Homo sapiens: one gene and its partner. The protein of the gene in region 1 purifies or fractionates together with the protein of each later gene. This does not show direct contact. Each region holds a gene or a part of one and is shown on either strand. Other genes may lie near its edges. The genes, in order: DENND5A and BEND3.

What was found.
Region 2: the proteins of DENND5A (region 1) and BEND3 purify together in Homo sapiens (affinity purification with mass spectrometry; one large-scale study listed by BioGRID and IntAct). This does not show direct contact.

The regions. Positions count from the first base shown.
Region 1 is NC_000011.10:9,138,051-9,140,883, forward strand, and holds the end of DENND5A (DENN domain-containing protein 5A), read right to left. Parts: intron 1,805-2,833; coding exon 1,621-1,804; 3' UTR 775-1,620; downstream 1-774.
Region 2 is NC_000006.12:107,101,858-107,105,677, forward strand, and holds part of BEND3 (BEN domain-containing protein 3), read right to left. Parts: intron 1-3,820. UniProt on the Homo sapiens protein: Transcriptional repressor which associates with the NoRC (nucleolar remodeling complex) complex and plays a key role in repressing rDNA transcription.

The DNA of each region.
Region 1 (2,833 bases):
GTGCAAGGGCTGAGCCTGACACGAAAGCAGGCAATGACAATCCAGAGAGGAGATGCCAGCATCTAAGAAAATGAAGGAGCACAAGGATGGAATGATTAACTGCCTAGGGAGATTGGGGACACTTCACAGCAGGTGACTGCTAAAGTAAACCCTGTACAACAAACACAAAGTGGGTGAAGGGGAGGCATTCCAGGCAAAGGGAAAATGCATGCAAACCAGGAAAGCATAAAAGAGGGCACTGATTGGTCTGAGGTGCCTGACTTGATCACGTTACACTTCTTCTGGAGCTTCCTGCCAAAGCAGCCTGAAGAATAAAAATGAACGAAGCTGGACCTCTCATAAAGGTCTCCCACCTGCCATCCCCAGGAAAGCAAACCTTTCTTTCAAGAGCTTCCCCCGACCCCCAGCTTCCCACACCTGGTCTCCCTTACCCTCTCAAGAAAGGGCCCATCCTGTCTCAGTCAAGTGACAACCTCTGCACCCCTGGCCGGGTCTTTTCCCTCCTGTGTCTCAGTCTCCTCCTCTGTGGAGTGGGGAAAGAACCCTGTCTGCATCCATGTGAATCAGCCACATAACAGCTAGGAAGGCTCCTAGCACTGCGGGCAGAAGGACCCAGGAGACCCCAGGCCCTCAGGGGCATCCTGGGCAGGCCACAACCCCGAGCCTGCTGGTAAAGAGAGGTGATGCCACAAGACCATCCTCACAGATGGACCCAACTGCACCCGCAGCCACCCACTGCTCATAAACCTCCATAAAAATCAGTGATCCATGCAGTTTTTGTTTCAGGTGTTTTATTAAGTGGGCCATACTGTAGCTGGTTTCTAAGTTGCAAAACATAAATTTAATAATAATAACATAGCCAGTTAGATTGTGACAAGCTTTTCCTTTCCTTAAAAAAAGAAAATACTTAAAAACACACAATGGCGGGTTAAATAAATAAAACATTTTAAAAAAGAAAAAAGAAAAGAAAAACCTGTTAAAACATGCTTATGTTTACTTCTGTGAAACTGTGCCAACAGGAAATGTGGTATTTGGCACGATGACACATCCCGGCATGTCTCCTTCCCAAACAATACTGACAAAAAAGAAAATACGTGGGACTGACTCATCGGTGCTTGCTTAGAGGCACTACTAAAAATCCCTTTGATTGGAGCATGGGGCTTCCCGCGCAGCACACCTGTGTGTGGCCTATGAAAGCCAAATATCCATAATAATGTTAATATAGAAAAACATTAGTTTAAAAATGATGTGGAAGGGCCTCATTAATGCGACGGGGCAAGGAAACATAACTGTCCCGCACGCAGTGCCACAGGCTCAGTCCAGGGAGGCCTCAGGCTTCCAGCATGTGGCCACGGCGAGGGAGGGCACCAGCTTCAAAATAAGCGGCACCAGCCTCGCTCCCTCTCCCTATCACTCTTTCACATGAAAGTGTGTAAAAAGCAAATCAGCAAATAAACTCTAAAATAGATTATTTATTCCAAAAATCCTCTAGTTTTCTTTTTACAGTGAGTGTACATTTTGTCTCCTACTCCTGCACAATCGCTTAAGTCCCTTTGGGAAAAAAGGTCAGAGCTGCAGGGTGAGTCTTTCTCAGTCCTGCTGCTGGCTGGTGCTGGGAGGTCAGATGTCGATGCCCTTGACAAGGGACGTCTCCAGCGTGATGTTGAACTCCTGCAATGTCTGCAGCACACGAATCAAGGAATTGACAAGTGTATGGTCTTTGATCAGTGCCACATCCTCATACATGTGTGCAGTGATGGGGCAGTCAGCCAGCAGGGCAATCCAGTGGTGTAGGAGGTGATCTCTGGCAGAGCGGGAGCAGTCCAGGCAGGTCAGAGGGGCAAAGGAAAAGGAAGAGAGAGCGTTAGTGCAAGGCCAAGGGGGAAACCATGAACTAAGTCTGAAGCTGGAGAAGCTGACAGCCCCCCACACCCCCCTTTCCCAAACAGGGACTGGCAAAGAGGTCTTTCAGCTCCAGGACACCAAACAAACCTGACCCAAATCAGCCCTGTCATGAGCCTCCAAGCCTCCTCCTCCCCTGCCTCCCTCGCCCTGCCTAGTCAGCCCCACCACTGGTGTCTCCCAGAGCTTCTCTCCTCCCACAGCTACCACCACCAGGAATAATAATAAGCACTAACCTCACATAACACTCAGCATGTGCTGGCACTGACATAAGAGATTTAATCTTCATGATAACCCTGTGATATGAGGTAGGTACTATTATTATCCCCACTTTATAGATGAAGAAAGTAGGGTAGATGGAAGTTAAGTAGCTTGTCCAAGATCACATGGCTAGTAAATGGATAACTTGAGATCTGAACCTAGTGAATGCGGTTCTGGAGTCTGTTTTTAACCACTATGCCAATTCTCTCCCTTTATGCAGCCTGAATAAACTGCCTTAAGTTTATTTGAGCTTCATGCTCTCTCACCTGACCTACAGGAATAGCCCCTAATAATCATGTCCACTCTAATGCATACCACCCATAATATCAGATTAATATTACTTCAGTCCCCTGATGAAACAACTTTGTACTAATATGAAAAGAATCTTTCTCTGTCCCAGCTCAGGGGCCCTACCCTCCTTTCAACTGTGTTTCCTATTACTGCCCTTGCCACGTTCTGTTATTTCCTTCCATTAAAGGCTCACTTAAATACCAACTCCTCCCTGAAGTCTTCTCTGATCTTTCTCCTCTACCTTTTCAGCATATTGTATGAATGTACACTTCATTTTTGGACCCTCAAAACCTTCTTCCATGCTCTGTATTTAATTAGGACAAGTAAGCTTCTAAATGTTGGCCAGGCATGGTGGCTCACGCCTGTAATTTCAGCACTT
Region 2 (3,820 bases), on another chromosome or scaffold:
GAAACTGCCATGGTCACATAACCCATTCCTGCCAATCAAGGGGAGTTCTGAGATGCAGAACAGATGGGGCAAAACGATGGCTGTCAGAGGCGGACATACTTTACAAAACAAATTACATTTGGCAGAGAAAAGGCAGAGAGGGAGGAGACAGCGGTTGGTTTATTTGGGGAGGAAAAGGGTCATGGTGAAAGAAAAATTGCAAAGAGTCAAAGATTCTGGTAAGTGGAAAGCACTAAAAGGATGGGCAAATACTAGAACAAAACAAAACAGGCGTCGATGAGAGAACACAGCAGACAGGGCCATGGGTGGTGAGAAGGGCAGTCTATTTATCTGCCATTATATTCGCCCAACCATGTGTCTCTGGCAGGCCCATCACATAGGGAGCAGTGCAGGGCTGGAGTCCAGGCTGCCACATGGAGCCTGCCGGGAATGTGGCTTGGTGAGCAGAAAACCTATTTTCTGATTTTTTATTTTTCCTTGTTTCCAGTGGGGTTGGAAGGAGGCTATTTTCTGAACCACCACCATGTGACCCTACAGCAGGCAATTTGGCCTCTGAATTTTGAGCCCCTATAAAGTGATGAAGGAAGAGCACACATCTCAGCCACCTGCAGTGGGCAGAAACCCCAGAGGGCTCATGCAGCTGAGGTGGGAGGAAGGGGTGCTGGTGCGGCTGCCTGGGCATTCAAGACACCGAGTGCTTGTGCTTTGGAAAACACTTCCGTGTCCATTTATAGACTAGTGACAGATGCTAGGTTAGCCCAGAAGTAGCCCAGAACACAGCATGGTGGGCCCCTTCCCTCCGGGCCAGCAAATCAGCTTCACTCATTAAGAAGCTGGGGAATCTCCCATTTGCAAGGCCTGGAAACCTCGCGCCTGCCCCTGGCTTGCGCAGTGGGGAGTGAGGTGAGCATCCCCTGTAACATCTGCAGCCCACCAACTTCACACCAGGCACTGGGCTGGCCACTGCATGTGTGCCTGTGCCTCACCCTGAGCTATTTTAGTTCCAATTTCAACAAATAGAGAAACCCAGGACAGGTAACTCCTCCAGTGTCACATCACTGAGTGGCAGAACCTGGCTTCAAATCGAGTCTTTCTGTGCCTTCCCTCAGCCAGCCAGGGAGGAAATAATAGAGTCTTCATTCTTTTGTTAAGCTTCTTCTGATGAACCATGGGCCTGTTTCCAAATTTGAGTCCCTCTGTCCAACAGCACCAGGAAACCACATCTCCTTCTGCCTCCATTAGCACTCTGGAAAGTCAGTCTGCTCCGTGCGTAGAAACAGACTCCACCCCACAATACAGAAAAGCTTCTACAAGAGAGATGTGTAGGCCACTCCCTGCATCCCCAGCTGGCGCAGGGACAGCACACCAACAATGTCACAGCTGGGCAGAAAGGGGATGGGGAGCACACTGCTACCTCCATTTCCTGGTCACCTGCCCAGATGAGGGTCACAAGCTCTGCTCCTCCTGGGTGGACACCCAGCACCCAGATGCCTAGCATGCCACAGACATTCCTCTCGCCTACCTGACTATAGGCTACGTAGGCGCTGCCACAACTACCCAACCACCACAGCACCCACCTCCTAAAGGCTGCTGTGAGCATTCCCTTTGCCTCCTGGACTCTGGAGAACTTCTCATTCTGACATTCTCTCATTTTCAAAATGTTCTCATGCCTCCCACCATAAACCTCAAATTATGGGACAGTCAACACATCCACACGTTCCCCAAAATCAACTTTCTCCCCAAGGGATGTCTGTTCTATGTCCCTCAGACAGCTGAGCTAAGCCTAGGAAAAAAGAAAAAGAAAAAAGAGGCCAGGCACGGTGGCACACGCCTGTAATCCCAGGACTTTGGGAGGCCAAGGCGGGCGGATCACCTGAGGATGGGAGTTGGAGACCAGCCTGACCAACATGCAGAAACCCCATCTCTACTAAAAATACAAAATTAGCTGGGCATGGTGGCGCGTGCCTGTAATCCCAGCTACTCAGGAGGCTGAGGCAGGAGAATCGCTTGAATCCGGGAGGCGGAGGTTGTGAGGAGCCGAGATCGCGCCATTCAACGCCAGGCTAGGCAACAAGAGCGAAACTCCGTCTCAAAAAAAAAAAAAAGAAAGAAAGAAAGAAAGAAAGAAAGAAAAAACAAAGAAAAAAGAGAAGGCCGGGCGTGGTAGCTCACACCTGTAACCCCAGCACTTTGGAGGCGGGCAGATCACGAGGTCAGGAGATGGAGACCATCCTGGCTAACACGGTGAAACCCCATCTCTACTAAAAAAAATACAAAAAAAAATTAGCCAGGCGTGGTGGCGGGCGCCCATAGTCCCAGCTACTCGGGAGGCTGAGGCAGGAGAATGGCATGAACCCAGGAGGCAGAGCCTGCAGTGAGCCGAGATCGCGCCACTGCACTCCAGCCTGGGCGACAGAGCGAGACTCCGTCTCAAAAAAAAAAAAAAAAAAAGGAAGAACCACATCACAAAGAGATAGGCTGGAAAGAGTTACACACTACAGGACACTTCATCTTTTTAGTGTTCATTTTAAGAGGGAAGATACATAATGTGGCTTTTCCCCATTTTTTACCAGGTAATATAGTCATGCCTTAGTATCCTCAGGGGGTTGGTTCCAAGACTCCCAGTGACACCCAAATCCACAGATGTTCAAGTCCCTGATAAAAAATAGCATAATATTTGCATGTAACCTGTGTACATCCTCCTGTATACTTTAAATCACCTCCAGATTACTTATAATAATACAATGTAAGTGGTATATAAATAGTGGTTATAGTGTATAGTTTTTTCGTGGTGTAATTTTTTACTGGTTTTTCTTTTGGATTTTTTTTTTTTTTAAGATGGGTTCTGTCACCCAGGCTGCAGTGCAGTGGTATGATCGTGTCTTACTGCAGCCTTAACCTCCTGGACTCAAGCCATCCTCCCACCTCAGCCTCCCAAGCAGCTGGGACCACAGGCATGCGCCACCACATACAGCTAGTTTTTTATTTTGTAGAGACGGGCCTCCCTACGTTGCCCAAGCTGGTCTCAAACTCTGGGGCTCAAGCAATCCACCCACCTCGACCTCCCAAAGTGCTGGGATTAGAGGTGTGAGCCACTGTGTCCAGCTCCAGCTTCTGGAATATTTTCTACCTGCAGTTGGATGAACCTGCAGATGTGGCGGGGCTGACTGTACATGCACACAGAACAAAAATCAGCAAGCATGAAAGGATATTTGGTTAAAAAGTCCACTGTTGGCTGGGCGCAGTGGCTCACACCCGTAATCCCAGCATTTTGGGAGGCCAAGCCAGGTGGATCACGAGGTCAAGAGATGGAGCCCATCCTGGCCAACGTGGTGAAACCCCATCTCTACTAAAAATACAAAAATTAGCTGGGCGTGGAGGCACCCACCTGTAGTCCCAGCTACTCCGGAGGCTGAGGCAGGAGAATCGCTTGAACCTGGGAGACAGAGGTTGCAGTGAGCCGAGATCGCGCCACTGCACTCCAGTCTGGGAGACAGAGAAAGACTCTGTCTCAAAAAAGAAAAAAAAAAAAAAAAAGAACTGGGATGGGAGATGACATGGTCTTCTAAGCAGGGGGCGGTTGATCAGGATCACTGGCCTTTTCCCTGTCCAGCCCATAGATTTCCAAAAGGACATTCTCTAGTGAACCCATAGGCGGCTGGGAGTGGCCCGGGGTACCTTTCTATCAAGTTCTTTGAATAGTCAGTTGCTGTGGAGAGAGCAGACAGACCAGGTCTTTTGGGACAGCAGCGTGAGCCTAATCAGAGCTGCCAGAGGCCTGTGGGCCGGGGAGTCACACAGGACAAGCGGCAGGCCCAGA